Homo sapiens: one gene and its partner. The gene in region 1 interacts genetically with each later gene. Each region holds a gene or a part of one and is shown on either strand. Other genes may lie near its edges.

What was found. Genes that interact genetically often act in the same process or in processes that back each other up.
Region 2: changes in ADAT2 (region 1) and ATP1A1 together harm fitness less than expected from each alone (positive genetic interaction), as found in Homo sapiens cells (one large-scale study listed by BioGRID).

Annotation. Positions count from the first base shown.
Region 1 is NC_000006.12:143,426,696-143,430,195, reverse strand, and holds part of ADAT2 (tRNA-specific adenosine deaminase 2), read left to right. Parts: intron 1-1,511; coding exon 1,512-1,584; intron 1,585-1,689; coding exon 1,690-1,733; 3' UTR 1,734-3,500. UniProt on the Homo sapiens protein: Probably participates in deamination of adenosine-34 to inosine in many tRNAs.
Region 2 is NC_000001.11:116,400,744-116,404,243, forward strand, and holds part of ATP1A1 (sodium/potassium-transporting ATPase subunit alpha-1), read left to right. Parts: intron 1-117; coding exon 118-263; exon of another isoform or gene 264-386; coding exon 387-517; intron 518-810; coding exon 811-912; intron 913-3,140; coding exon 3,141-3,232; intron 3,233-3,500. UniProt on the Homo sapiens protein: This is the catalytic component of the active enzyme, which catalyzes the hydrolysis of ATP coupled with the exchange of sodium and potassium ions across the plasma membrane.

The DNA.
Region 1 (3,500 bases):
ACAGCAGGAAGCAGGGGGCAGCTGTGACGGGACTGGCTGGCAGTGGTTAGGATGGTAAAATGCTGAGAAGCCAAGGGAGGCAAGAGCGGTCAGACAGAGCAGGTGTGGCCAGTTGCCTCCAGGACTGCAGAGTTGAGGAATCTGAAAGGAGGCAAGTGTTTTGGTCAGTAGGGACCTGGGGATTTCTGAGAGGGCAGACTCAGTGAAGTGCTGGGAACTCAAGCCAGTGAAGATGAGGCCACTGAGGAGTGAAGGCAGGAGCAGGGTGTCAGCCTTTGACGGGACAGGGTGGATGGAAGGTTATTTGTTATGGCGAAGGTTTATGCAGGTGTCGGAGGCCCAGGCAAGGGCAGACTGAAGACACAGGAGAATGGGAGGTTCGTTCTGAACAGCATCTCACAGTAGCTGGTCCTCCTGTCCTCTGTGCCTATGCTTTCTGGCTCCTTCCTTCCAGATGCTCATTGTGTCACTTCATGCACTTCAGAAGGGTGCTTGGTTTTAAGTCCAAACTCTTCTGACAAGCTTTCAAAGCCGTACATATTTTTACCCCAATTTTTTGTCTTTCTTTCCTTATGCTTCCTTAATAGTCTCCTCCTCTGTCAGCTGATTTCCTCACACACAACCCAGGCTTCTTCTTGCCCTTTCCCTGAAATGCTCTGCTTAGCCTCTTTAAATATTCTCTATCTCTAAGGCAAGTTCAAGTTTCATGTTCTTCAGGTAATATTTCATATAACACTCCTTACTGTTAGCACAATTTCTTATTTATTCTTTCACATGTTATGATTTCTTTTCCCCAGTTAGATGCTAAAGATAGAACAAGCTGTATTTTATTTTTTAAAATCCTCTGTAGCAAGGGTTGATAAACTTTTTCTGCAAAGGGTTAACTAGTAAATATTTCACCCTTTGTGAGCCGCTTACATCTCTGTCACCTAGTCTTTTTTTTTCTTTAACAAAGCTTTTAAGATATAAAAACCATTCTTAGCTCACAGTTCTCAGCTATGGAACAGATTTGGTCCACCAAGTATAATTTGCCAACCCTAGCTCTATAGCATGGAATGCTTAATGGACCACTAGTAAATAGGAGCAGATAAAAATAACTAATGCTTAATGAGCACTTATGATGTGCCTGGTATTTAACAGGTATTATCTCACTTAATCCTCACAAAATCCCCTGAAGTAAGTGCTATTATTGCCAGCATTGTATAAATAAGGCATGGAGAGTTTAAGTGCCTAACCCAAGATCACAAAGCTGGTAACTTCTATAATAGTTAATGGATGAATAACAGTTGATTGGGAGTGATGCCTAATAACAGTTGATTGGGAGTAATGAAAAAGATGATATATCAAACATCTTTTGGAAGTGTACCTCCTTACCCATGTTACTAATATCCCCAAAGTTTATTAACATCTGAAATCTGTTTACATAATCATGTATATATATGTTGTTTTTATGGGATACAGCACACATTTTCATAGGCCTATGTTTATTCTCAACTTTCTCATTCCATCAGTGTATCCCTGGATATCGGGCTGAGGAAGCAGTGGAAATGTTAAAGACCTTCTACAAACAAGAAAATCCAAATGGTCAGTTTTCTGTTGTGGATAATGTCCTTCCCTTAAATCCATACAAAGAGAATCTGCTATGAGCTTACCTCTTCATTTTCTTTTTCTTTTCTATTCTTTTCACAGCACCAAAATCGAAAGTTCGGAAAAAGGAATGTCAGAAATCTTGAACATGTTCTGATGAAAGAACCAAGTGACCCAAAGTGACCTGGACAAGATTCATAGACTGAAAGCTGTTGACATCGTTGAATCATATGTTTATATATTGTTTTTAATCTGCAGGAAAATGGTGTCTCTCATCATTTGCTCTGTTAAGGGAACAAATTAGCACTTTTTAGAAGTCTGACAATTGTAAACAGTTATTAGCTTTTCCAGAAGCTGATTCCCATTTTAAGATGGGGGAAAATTAAGGTTTGAGGTTTTAGAAATTAGCAAGTAGTGCATACCCTTCTAGCCACAAGTGCCCAGTCCAGGCAAGTGCTGACTTCTTAGAGAATGTGTGGCCAGACCCAGGGACCTGGAGTGTGTTTGGACTGCAGTTTGCCACCCTGAGAACACCTTCTCCAGGACTGGCATTTCAGAATCAGATTCTTCATTTTTTGCAGCTACGATGTTCTTCCAGGGCACTGGGGGCTGTGACTTCTCTCTAAATTGTATATAAGTTGTGTATATAGAGACCATAATTATATGGTCCTTAGAAAAGACTTTGCTTTTATAAAGCATTTAGAAAAAATGCATACTTTTAAAACAAGTGCTTGAGTTGTCACTTAAAAATTATAGCATATTGCTATAATAAAACCTTATTTATGTCTTATTTGAAGATGAATAGTCTTAAAAGATAAAGACATAAATGGGACAATTGTTATTGAGCAAAAAACCAAATTATCCCACCCTCATGGAGCTTATATTCTAGCAAGGGGAGATGGATATGATAGATTACACAGTTTATTGGAGGACAATAAGAGTTATGGCAAAAAGCAAAAGGAACACAGGGTAAAGGGGATAGGTGCCATTTGGTGGTGAGAATGCTGACTGAAAAATAGAATGATCAATTTAATCTGAAACAAATGGTTATTTCTTTTATAATCCATATAATAAATTTAAAATCTAAAATGTAAAATTTTGAACACAACACTGGAAAGGGTATCCACAGCAGGAAGTCCCCAGTTCACCTCCATGACTACAGGGCAGCTTTGCACAGCCCTCTGGGCGCACTGTGTGCCTCTGCCCAGAAGGGGGCCTCGCCGTTCCACCAGAAGCTCAGCTCCAGGCCCTGGAGGGGCTGCTGCTCCTCAGTTGCATTTCTTCAGTAGATTCATTTCCTTGATGCAAAGCATCTGTATTTGTTGGTTCTGTCATTTGAGCGATGTCTCTGACTTGTTTGTTTTGAATTACATTACAGGCTGGAATGTAATTGTGGTGAAAGTATTTTTATATTGCTGAGAGTAGCAGCTAATCACAGTTACATGCTTCAGAGGACTTATAATTGCTTGGTTTTGTGTGTGTGTGTGTGTGTGTGTGTGTGTGTGTGTGTGTTTAACTGCATTTGAAAAGTTTTATGGAGAATATGCATGATTTTAAATCTGTGATAATGTTACATGCACCTTCAATTTCATCCACTTTAAAAATTATCTTCTCATTGAATTTTAGTGCTTCTACTAGTTTGTTCCTTTTTGCAGTTGGTCGTAATTCATTTCTGGCTTCTTATGCTTTCCTGCAAGCAGATTTCATTGCATTTATTGTGTTCATATCATTTTCTTGGGGATTATTTGTAGGACAACCAACCTGGAGTTTTGCCTCTCTAGAGTACCACCCAGTAAGTCTGGCTGAGCATCTTATGTCCAGTAGGTTCTTGGTAAACATTTGCTAAATGAAATTACTGATTGAAATTTGGGGAAAAGTGAATAAGAAGACTATCTAGGACAAAAAGCCAAAGC
Region 2 (3,500 bases), on another chromosome or scaffold:
CAGGGGGAAACACTCCTCCATATGTGCTCTCCCAGGCCTGCTGCAGTAATCAGCTGAAGGCTATACAGGTACCCTTGTGTGTGAGGTTCTAGTAATTGGGTTGTTTTCCCAACTTAGGAATGATCCAGGCCCTGGGAGGCTTCTTTACTTACTTTGTGATTCTGGCTGAGAACGGCTTCCTCCCAATTCACCTGTTGGGCCTCCGAGTGGACTGGGATGACCGCTGGATCAACGATGTGGAAGACAGCTACGGGCAGCAGTGGGTGAGTGGGCACCTCTGACCTGACCAGTGTCAGAGCTCCTCAAGCCCCAGAAGACTGAGGCCACACTGCCACCAGCCATGCAGGTGAAGAGCCAGAGCTCATCTTCTGTCTTCTGCATTTCAGACCTATGAGCAGAGGAAAATCGTGGAGTTCACCTGCCACACAGCCTTCTTCGTCAGTATCGTGGTGGTGCAGTGGGCCGACTTGGTCATCTGTAAGACCAGGAGGAATTCGGTCTTCCAGCAGGGGATGAAGTAAGTAATGAAGGACATGTCAAGGCCTTGGCTCAAAGAAGGGGACTGGTGATTTGTAAACCCTTTGCCAAAAACTAAACATATGACACATATAGCCAGGTTTCTGGAATCTCTAGTTTATAGAGCAAATTTAGGAAGCAAGAAATGTAGCTTTCTAGTTTTTTCATCTGACCTCCAAGTTTTCAAGTACAGCTAATACATAAAGATGTTGATCTGCCATTTTAATGCATAGCATTAGAAGATAAACCTTTATTTGCACCTTTTAAGTTTTTTCTCCCCTACTTTGATTTTAGGAACAAGATCTTGATATTTGGCCTCTTTGAAGAGACAGCCCTGGCTGCTTTCCTTTCCTACTGCCCTGGAATGGGTGTTGCTCTTAGGATGTATCCCCTCAAGTAAGTTGATCCTCTGGTAGCTCCAAAAAGTATGAAATAGTATGTGTGGCTTTTCCCCCCATTACTTGTGGTAATAGTTGTTATTTTCAGAATTTTGAGTGGTATGTACAAAAATTCCTATGGGTTGGAAAACTGTGAAAGCTTGACATGTCAGTAAATCAGACTAACAAATCCTGAGGCTTCCATGATAGCAGCTAGTGTTTAGGATTTGGCCCAAGATAAGATAAAGCCACACAGGCTCTAGCTCCATGGAACTGCTCAACAGCGAACTGCATTGAGCACTCAGGTCTGCCACAGCTGTAGTCCAGTTGTCTTTAGAGGCCAACTGGGGGTATGCTGGAGCGTAGGCGCCCAGGCTCAAATCTTGATTTGCTTGCTTAGTCACTGTCCCATTACAAGTCATCCACCTTTCTGAGACTCTGAATACTCTGCTCTCAAAGAAAGAAGGTTGGAGAAACAGATCTGAGGTCCCTTTTACTTTATAATCAGTCATGGGTAGAGTTGATCAAAGGAAGCATACTGCTAGTCTTTGGCCTTAAACACAGTGAATGACTCTGCATTTCAGATAAACTTGAATTTTCAAAGAGGGTTTATCACAAACTCCGTTAGTTTTTTGCAACATTGAGTATGTTTGGTGATACCTGGTTGAGGTTAAGCAACTGCAACTTGATTAAAACGTGCAAAGCCACAGATTGTGGGACCCATTTACAAGTTCCTTTGAAGCTTTTGATTTAAAGCATTAGTCTCCTTTGAATTCCTGCTGTCCTCATCCTTGCTCAGACCCGTCTGGACCATCTCTCAATCCCCTGTTGCCAGCACTTCCTTCAGCTCATCTTATCCCTAAAGTAACCAAAACCCATCAGCCTCATTCACTTCCTGTGGGTTATGTGCAGACATCGTCTGTGGTGCAAGATGAGACTGGCATCCAGAGTCAGTCTCATTGTCCCAACCTGTCTTTATAGCTTTCTCTTGTACCCCTTACCCATCCAAGCTCATGTTAGGTGAATTCGGCTTTCTTCCTCTGCCTTTGTGTTTGGTAAGATCCTTCCTCCCCACATCCCTCCTTCTGTTCCCTCTTACCCTGCCAATCCTGATAGTCCCTTCAGGGCCGGTTTCCTTGGAGCTTGTCCCTCCAGGGCCTGTGCACTTGCACCTCTTCTCTGGCATTACTTGTTGCTTGTCATTTCACCTCCCTGCTAGGTTTTAATCTAGAAGGCATGGGCCACAGTGTCTTTCTTCTCTGTGCATCCCCAGCTCCCTACACAAAGCTGGTGTACAGCAGGGGCCAGCCATCTCCAAATTGAATTCTGTCAGCTTGGGCCATTATGTATCAAGATGGGGCTTGGAGAGGTCACAGAGCTTTCCAAAAAGGCTGGTGGAAAATTACACTGAAAAGGGGGCATTTCCATCTTCTGGGTCCTTCCCTGGTTTTTTTGCCACCACCAAAGAGATTGTTCTGACAGGTTCTGCCCAATTTTGGAAGGTGGTTCAGTTATTCGGTGACTGAGTCAAATGAGATCATCTCTCTTAGCTGCCTTGTCAGACACACAGGAAGAAGAGGAGACCACCGGAGTCCTGCCCAGGGACAGCCTTTCTCACACCATAGCAGGGAGCTGGTGATCACGGAGGCTGCCTGGAGCCTGTCAGCAGGCTAGAGACTGTGTGGCTCAGCCTCCAGGCCCCTTGGAAGCCTTCGGGCTCAGCTTTTTTCAGTCCCCAGGACCAGGCCTCAGAACACAGAGCTGATATCCCAAATGCTGTTGTCAGAGATCAAATTTGGGGAATGCATAAACTGGTTTTGACCCACACTGGCAGGTCTTTATCTTCAAAATGCTGGGATATTAGGCAGATGGTCTTAAAAAGCTTCTTAAACACTTTAGAAATGAAAGAAAGAAAATGTTCAGTTGCTCTGGGATGGTTAACAGAAAAGTACTCTGCTCATCCTATAAACCAAGTCTTATGAAATCCAAACTGAAGATGAGTAGGGATTCCATTACAAAGTCTGCAGACTGATTTCCTCTGCGTCTCTAGGCCCTGGGCACATGGAGTAGCAATCTGTTTTAAGACATTTTTATTTGTTCTGTTAATGACTCAGTAGTTAACTGTGACTGTACTTGGCTTCTCCTTTCAGGCTGATTATTTCATTGTCACTGGTGATGTGCAATTTCTCTTTCTTTATTTGAACTGTGTTCGTGTGCATATAAATTGGTACCTTACTCTATTTCCAGACCTACCTGGTGGTTCTGTGCCTTCCCCTACTCTCTTCTCATCTTCGTATATGACGAAGTCAGAAAACTCATCATCAGGCGACGCCCTGGCGGTAATTATGGGCATTCTGACTTTGGTTGGAGGAGGAGTGGGAGGGGCTATAGTTCTATTGGTTTTTTGTTTCCCTCAAGGTGTCTAGGCTCCCTCAGTGGTCAGTCTGATTAGCTAAGGTGACTGGACCAGCAAACTGACCATAGTCACATCTTCAGAATGTAGATCTCAGTTACAGTTTGAGGACTGGTCATGTTTTAGACTTTAAAATACAAACCAAGTATGATTTAGTGAAAACTTGTCAGAATCTAAACCATCTTTCCAGGTAA